2 separate regions of the Homo sapiens genome follow, and region 2 is reported to be linked to region 1. Evidence: microRNA targets listed by miRTarBase, many of them from high-throughput screens and not tested one by one. Region 1 holds a microRNA gene; the other region holds the end of a gene's coding sequence.

Region 1 (5,372 bases):
AAAATAAAATATATATATATTTATTTATTTGGGAGGCCGAGGCAGGTGGATCACCTGAGGTCAGGAGTTCGAGATCAGCCTGGCCAACATGGTAAAACCCCGTCTCTACTAAAAACACAAATTATATATATATACATATATATGTGTATATATATACATATATATGTGTATATATATACATATATATATGTATATATATATGTATATATATACACACATATATCTGGAACCTCCCACCCAGGAAGTGTAAGCACACCCAAGGTATGAGCAGATTAAAGAAATCCTGCAGAAGGGGGAACACATGCATAGAGTATGCTGGCAAGGTCACATATAGAAAATGGGTGGGGGGACTTGAAAGCAGAGGTATAAATCCTATGTGCACCTTATTTGCTCAAGTCTACATGGACCAGCATCCAAACATTGAAATTTTCCTTTCAAATTCAATCCCCCAGAGTGTATGGTCTCAGGACCCTTCTTTCCCCCAAATCTTTTCTAGTGGGGATGCATGTATGCAGACAATGCAAAGTGCTACAAATCGCAACACCAAATGCATCAAGAGGTAGATTATTAGTATGAGTCAGTTTCACACTAACTTTACCAAAAACCTCACTGCTCACATTAGCTCAAGTAATCTACTTACAACCACAATTATAAATTCTGAGCTTCCTTGGCTGACGAGTTTGCAGTAGGTGGTTCTTGGCCCTGAGGGCTGCTGAGATGCCCGCCGTTATGAGATGCCCACTGAGAAAACCACCGCCCTCTCCCAGCAGGGTCCAGCAGGAGCAGTGTCTGCTCTCGGCTACACAACTCCATTCATAGACTTTTCCAGTTACGTTTGAGGTTCACCCAAAGGAGGTAGTAAAAACAGGAGGTGGGCACTGAAGCTGGCCTGGTATGTTTGAATTCCAGCTCTGCTTTTTATCAGCCTCCAGGTTTTCTCAGTTTCCTCATCTGTAAAACGGGAATAATATTACCTGCCTCACAGAGTTACCATGAAAGTAAGAAATAAAATATTCAAAGTATATGACATGGCTGGGCGCAGTGGCTCACGCCTGTAATCCCAGCACTTTGGGAGGCCGAGGCAGGTGGATCGCCTGAGGTCAGGAGTTCGAGACCAGCCTGCCCAACATGGTGAAACCCTGTCGCTACTAAAAATACAACATTAGCTGGGCGTGGTGGCACAGGCCTATAATCCCAGCTACTTTGGAGGCTAAGGCAGGAGAATTGCTTGAACCTGGGAGACGGAGGTTGCGCTGAGCCGAGATTGCACCATTGCACTCCAGCCTGGGCAACAAGAGCGAAACTCCATCTCCAAAAACAGCAACAACAACAAAGTACAGGACACTTGCTCCATGCTCCATAAAAGAAAGTTAATATTGCCATAAAGGAGACCAAAAAAATCACAGAAACCCACGACGTGATCCTGATGGGAGCCCTGTTAAGAGGGGCTTCCAGGCCAGGCATGGTGGCTCACGCCTGTAATCCCAGCACTTTAGGAGGCCGAGGCGGCCAGATCATCTGAGGTCAGGTGTTCAAGACTGGCCTGTCCAACATGGTGAAACTCCATCTCTACTAAAAGTACAAAAATTAGCCAGGTATGGTTGCGGGCGCCTGTAGTCCCAGCTACTCGGGAGGCTGAGGCAGGAGAATTGCTTGAACCCGGGAGGTGGAGGTTGCAGTGAGCCGAGATCGTGCCACTGCACTCCAGCCTGGGTGACAGAGCGAGACTCTGTCTCTAAATAAATAAATAAATAGAGGGGCTTTCTGCCAGGTCCATAGCTGCCTGCACACATAGTCCAGAAATGTGACCTCACTCCCTAGCTCCTGCTCCACTCGCCACCATCAACCTGCTGGCCTGTCATTCATGGTGTCTGGTGACTCTCCCTGCCATCCCATTCCAAACCCCTCAGAAAAGCTTATCCAATTCCTGAGTGAAAAGAATGGGCCTAGAAGGGCTGAGTTTAAGTTAACCCAAAGAAATAAACCCAAACTCCTTCATTCTCCAAGCTGTTCAGGCCTCAGGGACATGTGTGGGGTGACTGTGGGGCACACACTATCATTCCCCATGTGGATCCATCACGGGGCCTAGCACACAGGAGGTGCACACTCAGTGACTGTTCTGTTGTTGAATGGCAGGATGAATCTCACTCCTCCCTCAAGACCTGAAAACTTGAGAGTTATGAAGGCATGTTTAGGAATGACTGTAAAATACCACTTTTCAGAAAACACAGAAATCTCCATTTGATTCTTTCATTTGCAAGCCTGTTTGATCTGTCTACACACTGGTTGGTCTCTCGTGTCCCAGAAGCAGAGGGCAAGACACAAAACCAGAGTTCAGGGGAGCAAAGCAGACATTTTAGGAAGTTATTGCCCAAGTTTCACTTCCACGTCGTCTTCTGCATTCTACTTCAACTCTGGTTTTGAGCAAAGCTGGGGCTGGTGAAGAAACTTCCCTTAGTCTACATGTTCCTCTCCCTGAGTCCCAGCACTGAGGCTCTGTAGACCAGGGACTCAAATTACTGAGCACTCACTGATGCTAGACCCTATGTCAGGCATATTCAGACATCTTCTGACCTAAGAGCCACAACAAGCTGGAAAACAGACACTGAGATGCCAAGAGAGGTTATGCAATGTGCAAAAGACTTCACAGTCAGGGAGTCGGGTCTGAATCAAAGATCTCCTTGGCTCCAAGGTCCTTGCTTCTCAACCTGCCACTGTCCTTTTTCAAAGGCGCCAACCACTAACATGGCAAAGTGTTTCATTTTTCATAAAGCCATCTGAGGAGTTCAAAAGCATCTTTTTTTTTTTTTTTGAGACAGAGTTTCCCTCTTGTCACCCAGGCTGGAGTGCAATGGCACAATTTTGGCTCATTGCAACCTCTGCCTCCCAGGTTCAAGCAATTCTCCTGCCTCAGCCTCCCGAGTAGCTGGGATTACAGGTGCCAGCCAACACGCCCAGCTAATTTTTGTATTTTTAGTAGAAACAGGGTTTCACCATGTTGGCCAGGCTGGTCTTGAACTCCTGACCTCAGGTGATCCACCCGCCTCGGCCTTCCAAAGTGCTGGGATTACAGGTGTGAGCCACTGCGCCCGGCCCAAAAGCATCATGAAAAACTGTCCCCCTGCATTAAATTCAGATCCCATCTCTGCCAGAAGGATAGCCCTGGACAAATCATACAGCTCTCACCCACCTGTGACTATGCCCCATGGGAGAAGGACGTGTATATGGAGGCTTTCTGCTAGACTATGCTAGATGCTTTGATACACATTATCCCACTCAATCCTCCAAACATTCCAGGGAAGCAGGTGATAGTAGCCCAGCTTCATCAATGACAATTCTGGTTCTGCAGTGGGATGTGATTTGCCCAAGGTCATGCAGCGCTGAGAAGCAGGCCCAGGGCTCCATCAGCCCTGCCATGCAATAGGCTTTGTTGAGTGAGCACTGGATGTAAATTCCAAAGAGCTTAAAGCGGCCAGACAGAGCCAGTGACAGGAGACTCTATTAGGCAGATGAGGAAAGAATGGAGCTTTTCTTCCTCCTACCGCCCAAGCCTTTCCCATCCTTAACTCCTCTGCACAACGGGGCCCTCACTGTCCTTCCCCCACCTTCTTATCAAAGGATGCTGGTGCTGGGAGGGGGAAAAGACAGAAAGAGGATTAGTCTCTGGCATGGTTTATGTTGATTTCAAAGCTGTCACTTTTCCCACATTGGGCCTTCTTTTTCACTGTGGATTTAAGTGCCTAGTCCCCTGATGAACGAAGGTCAAGGGCAGAGGTACATTTTGAACTAGAGAAAGTCCTCAGCATCCTCCTGCTCTCACAGCCTTACTGCTAAACACAGCAGTGGATGCAGAGGGTGGCACTGTGGAGCGGTGAGCAAAAACCAGGCTCAGGAGCCAGAGGCCTAGGTTCCAGTCCTGACTGTGCCTCTTGGTCAAGATGCTTCCCCCCAGGAGGTCCCAGTTCCCTTGTGTGTTAAAATTAGAGTACTGGATGCTTAGGCCTGAAACTCTGAGTATGGGGTTTCTGCTCAGTCCTTCAGCTCACACTGCCTCTCCTCCCCCGCTCCCTGAAGGCAGCCCCATCTCAATGGCTCACAGCATCTAGGCCCTCCTGGGCTTATTCAGCACCTGCTGGCAGACAGAGGTGGTCTCTCTCCCACCCCTTCCTGCTCCCACTGTCACCTGTCCTGAGGTCCATCCTAGGCCTTTGTCACTTTGTCATATGTGTGTTTTCGCATGCATGCCTCCTCCTCTAAGCTAACTTGGAAACCTCCAGGGTCATGTAGAGATTTGCACCATCAGCATCAGCCTGGCTCCTGAATGAATGAAGGGGAGAGGGTCAGGTTGGATGATCTCCTGGCCCACTGCACTCAAAGTATGGTCTACAATCCAGAGGCATCGCATCATGTGCAAAAGTGTTCAAAATGCAGCATCTCACCCTGCCCCAGCCCCTGCTCAGAACCTCCGAGGCAATCCCCACGTGATGCGCAGCACACTCAAGTTTGGAAAGTTCTCTTCCAACTCCTCCCTCCCTTGCTTCTACCACCTAGAAGCCTCCGGAACTATGGCCTTAGCAGGTCTCACTAAAACATAGCCCATCATTAACCAAAAGAGATCTGCCTTAGGAACCTTCTAGAAGCCCGCCACTGACTCTCACAAGCAGAATCTGAAATGTGTGCTCCCCGGGGGGACTCCTGGCACACATTACTCAGTGGCCCTCTCCGACCCTCAAGGAAGCCCAGGAAGCTTTCAAGAACGCTGAGGCGGCCAGGCGTAATGGCTCATGCCTGTAATCCCAGCACATTGGGAGGCTGAGGTGGGTAGATCACCTGAGGTCAGGAGTTCGAGACCGGCCTGGCCAATATGGGGAAACCCTGTCTCTACTAAAAATACAAAAATTAGCCTGGTGTGGTGGTACGCGCCTGTAATCCCAGCTACTCGGGAGGCTGGGGCAGGAGAATCGCTTGAACCCGGGAGGCAGAGGTTGCGGTGAGCTGAGATCATGCCATTGCACTCTAACCTGGGCAACAAAGCAAGACTCCATCTCAAAAAATAAAAATTAGGCTGGGCATGGTGGCTCACGCCTGTAATCCCAGCACGTTGGGAGGCCGAGGCGGGCGGATCACAAGGTCAGCAGATTGAGACCATCCTAGCAAACACGGTAAAACCCCATCTCTACTAAAAATACAAAAAAAAAAGAAAGAAAGAAATTAGCCAGGCATGGTGGCGGGTGCCTGTAGTCCCAGCTACTCGGGAGGCTGAGGCAGAAGAATGGCATGAATCCGGGAGGCGGAGCTTGCAGTGAGCCGAGATCGCACCACTGCACTCCAGCCTGGGCGACAGAGCGAGACTCCATCTCAAAACTAAAAAT
Region 2 (5,351 bases), not on the chromosome of region 1:
AGCATATGATATTTATTCCTCCCTTGGAGTTTGGGGACTCTTAAATTCCTCCAGAATACTGGCCTTGATAGTCAGAAGAATATGGAACAGGTGTTCCCCAAAGGCAAAGAGAAACAATCAGCTGAGAAATAGAGCCTTATTATCTATCTCCAGCAAATATATCTGGCTGAGTATCAGATTTTTTTTTCTGTCAGCACCCCAAAACTCAGGGAAAAAGATTAATGGAAGGTTTCTGTGAGTGCTACACTAACATGTTCTCCTGCTTATTCAGGGCTTTCTTCTACAGCCATTGTTGCCAGCCAACAAGGCTCAACTCCCTCACTCTACCCACCCCCCAGGAGGTGAGAATGGTAAGTCACTTTTATTAATTTGGGGCAACACATAAAGCCGGGATAGTTGCTACCTGGATCACAGAATCCCTAGGTGAGAAATAGCTATGAGGGGTCAGCAGTCTGGAATCCATGGAACCCTGGCCAAGCCTCTTGTACAAGAGTCTCCCGTGAAGCCATGTGCATCTGAGAGGACCTGTGGAACACAGTGTCCCCTAGGGACCAGTACTGGCCACTCCTACAATTCATTTTCTTGGAGTGCCACCTTGTGGTTTTTTTACCAACAGGCTGAGTGCCTGGTTATCTGTCCATGTTTCCCTTGCAGACACCAAGTGCCCGGATAAAGTCAGCTTCACGGGCCCGGACTGGCTTACCCAAGGAGGTGCTGAAGGTGCCGTTTAGACATCAGTTAAATGGTGTTGATCATCCTGTTTGCCGTTTCCACCATGACTGAAGGCAGACCCTTGGCTATCTCACCTCCACCAGACCTCCGGACTACCTGACCCTACCTCTTCCTCAGGAGCTGGAGAGCTGGTACTTAGCAAAAATATTTATTCTCTCAGCCACAGTTATGACTATTGTGGCCTCTGTGGAGATGAAGGCACGGGAAGCAACCAGGGGAACATGGCCTCAGCCCAGAGAAGCCACTGCTCTGTTCCCCAAGCCCTTGGTCTGCTGCTGGAGCAGTACCAGCCCCCCCGCCCACCAGGGAGGGACCCCCACCCCCAAGCACTGGGTAAGGTCTGAAGACAGCACAGCAGCCATACCCCTCACCATCATTACCACCATCACCAGATTCTGCATCTCCCTAGTGCTTTGCACCCTGGGAATTGGCAGCATGTGGAGGAACTAGAATCTCAGGAAAGAAATTGGGGGTTGTTTTCTACATAATTGTGAAAACAAGGTCTTCAAATGTGGAGACTTCTCCCCATTTACATGAGCACATATAAACGCTCACAACCTAGCCTGGAAAGGAAGACCAAGGCATCTGCCCCAACATGGCCTTGAGCTGCCTGTGAGGCAGGGGGCAGGGGTTCCAACACCAGCACAGGGCTCCCCAGGGACACTGGGAGCAAGCTGGTGCTGGAGCATGAATGACGTCTGTGAAGTAGAACCTGCGTCCCCACTAAGTCCTGCTGCTTCTTATTCCCCAACTCCTTGCCCTTTTCCCTTCCCTCCTAACCCCTTGGTGCCTTTCCCAGGGGGATCCCCACACTGGTCTTGCCTCTTCTTTTCCACTGCTTGGCTCTTAAGCCTCAGGCAGATAAACTAGTATTCCCCCCAGCTTGGGGAACCTTGGAGTCTGCCAGGTCACCTTAGGGCAAGGCCCAGAAGGCAGCCCCTGGGAGCACCCAGCAGTTCTTGGAGATGTCCTGTCATCTAGCCATCTGATATCTTCCTCATTTGAGGCCACAGATATATACAGCCCAATTCCTCTGTCTACAAGTACATGATTTTATATAGCTCAGTCTATAACCTCCATGTGGGCCAATATAAGCTGTGTTTCTTGGTAACACATATTTTGTTTGAGGGGCCACTGGCCATGGGAGGTTATTTGTTCCTTAGACCCTGGAATAACACATCCAAGCCATTACTTATTAGAGTCTCAGAATGTACTCAGTGGAGCTGTGCTTTGAGGCAGCCAACATTTCTCTGCTCTCCTTAGAAATGCAGTCTCCCAATGGAAGCTTTATACTCTTTGTACTGGGAAAGTGAGGATGATTTGGTAGCTTTATTGGGGTCATGTCTTCCCCAAGGTGTGGGGAGCTTAGCTTACTTGGCTTTTGAGGTATCATCCCTCTGTTCTCCCCTCCTATCTTTCCATGACCCTCTGGATTGAGAGAGAGAGATAAAGACTGACAGACACCAGTGTAGGCTGGAAAAGGGAGTGTGTGACCAGAGTGCCAAAAGTGACTAGGAGCAGGAACTTGGCTCCGACTCAGTTTGGAAAATGGGAAATAGGGGACAGTAAGCACAATGCCCAGTAGTAGTTGATTTCCAAGGACCCTGGAACCCTACACTTGAGAGGCTTAGGGTCACCATCTGCTCAAGAGGATCCCCTCTGATCTACAGGCCTTTTCCCTAGGTTTCTGCCTCCTCGTTTTTGTTCAAGTTGGGTTCTGAGTCCTCCCCAAAAACCATTGTTTTAGACCTCTTGGCAGGGCCCCAAAACAGCCTCCCTCATACCCATCATTCCCTCTGCCTTCTGCTGCCCTCATGGGCAGTGCTCTGAGCAGTGACCTCCCTTTCCTCCGTGGAAGTAGCTAGTGCAGACACCGTCATCCCACCCCACCTGAGTCACCCCAACCAAGAGGGTGACTGAATTTCAGCCTGATTATGCCCTCCTGGGGCTCCTGTGAGGTGGAGCCAAGGTTCCCTCTCTGTTCCTGTTTGTTTTTAAATATTGTTGTGTGTTTTGTATCTGTGGCACTGGCCTGCAGCATACTCTGTATATATTGTAAAGAAACCGTTAGGAGTAATTTTCTTTTGCATTGGGCAGGCATGGCCCTGCATTCCTGCCCTTTCCACTCATTCTGTAACACAGAGGACGAACTTCTGTATTAGCTGGGCAGCCTTGGGTTCTCCAGAAGAGAACAGGTTTTTCTTTTCCTTTTTAATTTTTCTTCTTAAACATTTGGCTCTTTGATCCTCATATCCAAGTCTCCCCTGAAGAGTAGGAGCTGCTCAGAAGAGCAGGTGAAAGCCACCATGGCAGATCCTGATGCCTGCCGGGCCTAGTCTTCCCTCTGAAATAACATGAAGCAGCAGCTGTGGAGATTCTTGACAAGTGCTGAGTGAAAGATTTGCTGCCCACCTCTACATGGGGAGGAGAAACACAGGTGGGAGCTACCTGTGGCATCCATGACCTAGTCAGAGGGATGAGATGCTCAGCAGGGGTCCCCATCCTATCCCACCCCACAAACAAAGGCTGGAAAAATTTGCTACCAAGGGCCAAGACCACCAGACCAAGCCTGTTTATGAGCCACCCCTGCCCAGGCCCTCACAGACATTGCTCACGGGGCTTCCCATAGAGGAGAAGCTAAAGAGGGAGGGGGCCTCATCCCCAGATAGATCAGGCAAGGCTTGGAGAGCTGCTCTTTAGGATCCACATCAACTACTTCCTCATTTTAAGGTATGGCAGTTCCCTTCATCCCCTTTTCCTGCCTTGTACATGTACATGTATGAAATTTCCTTCTCTTACCGAACTCTCTCCACACATCACAAGGTCAAAGAACCACACGCTTAGAAGGGTAAGAGGGCACCCTATGAAATGAAATGGTGATTTCTTGAGTCTCTTTTTTCCACGTTTAAGGGGCCATGGCAGGACTTAGAGTTGCGAGTTAAGACTGCAGAGGGCTAGAGAATTATTTCATACAGGCTTTGAGGCCACCCATGTCACTTATCCCGTATACCCTCTCACCATCCCCTTGTCTACTCTGATGCCCCCAAGATGCAACTGGGCAGCTAGTTGGCCCCATAATTCTGGGCCTTTGTTGTTTGTTTTAATTACTTGGGCATCCCAGGAAGCTTTCCAGTGATCTCCTACCATGGGCCCCCCTCCTGGGATCAAGCCCCTCCCAGGCCCTGTCCCCAGCCCCTCCTGCCCCAGCCCACCCGCTTGCCTTGGTGCTCAGCCCTCCCATTGGGAGCAGGTTGGGGCGAGCTGGAGGCCCGGGCTGGAGGGGCAGTGTTGCTGTTCATAGATTTTGTTCCATTGGCGTTGCTCTGTTGAATTTAATTTCAGTCTTCCTGATTCTTCCCTTCTGTAAAGTGTACATTACCAAGTTCCTTGTTTTTTTATATATATATATAAATATATATATATACAAACTGTACTCTTTTTGCCTTTGTACATTCAGGCAAGAAGAGAAAATAAATCTTTTTAAGAGACAATCACAAATCTGTGAGGGCTGCTGGTTATTTCTCCTGGAGTTTGCTGCTGAGCTGCCTCTTCCTTCCTCCCAATTTTCCTGTTCTCCCTCAGCTCTCCTGATCTTCCTGGCCCTGCTCCATATGCATCCTCAGCTTCACTTTCCCTGGCTGATGGCAAGCTGTTGAATCCAGTGTCCAGACTACCTGCCTTGTAACCCTTTTCTGCCCAGCATTGTTTTCTGGCTTGGCCACTGGCTTAGCCCAGGAGCTTTACTCTGTGCCCTGGCCTCCCCTCTCTTCACCTTTAGATTTCCATTCACCGAAGTGGCTTTGGACCCCTGGGTACTCTGGGACCTGTTTCCTGGAGGCCCTGGCTTGGGACACTCACCTGTGAAACTATGCAGCTGGGAGCTCTCTGCCTAAGAGTTTGCACTATTTAAACCTGCCTGGGAGTTAGGACGGATGGTTTTAGGAATGACCGGAAAACTACCCCTAAAACTCCCCCGACATTCCAGCCTCTAGAATGCTCTGATCCAGAGCTCAGTGGATGATTCCCAGCTGGTGGACTCCTGTGGCTACCCCATCAGAACAAGGGCTAAGGGTTTATGGGTCAAGAGTATTTGATCAGAATTTTAAAGGGTGGTATACTCTGAAACACAGCCCAACCAAACCATTGTTTGGCCGCTTTCTCTTTTCCTCTACCTTCCTCATCCCCACTTTTTTCCCTTTCTCTCTACTTCCTCTTCTTAATTGGCTTTGGAATTGAAATATATTTTTAAATTATTTGTTGTATTTATTGAATAAAGTTTTTAATGTCCCTGTTCTTAAATTTAGACTTAGTTTGCCTTTCACACACCACCCCCACCCCCAAAATATTCTACCTTCTAAGTTGCTTTTTAAACTGTAGTGCAGCCTTTTGGGTACCATATTTCTTTCCTGTCAGTGGTCTTCAATAGCAAAAGTTTTTTTTGAAAAGGGAAATCTTGACTGGGTGATTTTTTTTTGAAGAGGGAAATCTTGACTGGGTTTCCAATTTAGCCTTTGTGACTCTAGCCGTATTGAAGAGGAATCACCAATAGGTGGCAGCAGAATCTCAAGCATGTTTCTTGGGAAAAAGTAAGGGACTGAGTTTTGTCTTGGTTCTTTTTC

What was found. The annotated mature microRNA hsa-miR-5194 reads UGAGGGGUUUGGAAUGGGAUGG and lies in region 1 at 1,888-1,909, opposite strand. An mRNA with a match to its seed (bases 2 to 7 or 8) in the 3' UTR can be bound and repressed. Matches are read on the target gene's strand: a 7mer-m8 pairs with bases 2 to 8, a 7mer-A1 pairs with bases 2 to 7 and ends in A, and an 8mer does both.
Region 2: miRTarBase lists ZNF609 as a target of hsa-miR-5194. Seed matches in the 3' UTR shown: 8mer at 1,095-1,102.

The regions. Positions count from the first base shown.
Region 1 is chr8:130,006,473-130,011,844 of GRCh38, forward strand. MIR5194 (microRNA 5194) reads right to left here and starts at 1,981; the gene lies at 1,862-1,981. All of the region lies in intron 1 of CYRIB (CYFIP related Rac1 interactor B), which reads right to left. It overlaps LOC124902025 (a long non-coding RNA gene), which reads right to left and starts at 4,848. Exons shown (of 2, transcript XR_007061113.1): 1 at 4,184-4,848.
Region 2 is chr15:64,681,038-64,686,388 of GRCh38, forward strand. ZNF609 (zinc finger protein 609) reads left to right here. Exons shown (of 10, transcript NM_015042.2): 9 at 272-350; 10 at 655-5,031. The coding sequence ends at 345. Among named protein-coding and RNA genes, the nearest start is that of OAZ2, 20 kb to the right of the region's middle. RefSeq lists an enhancer at 4,505-5,006.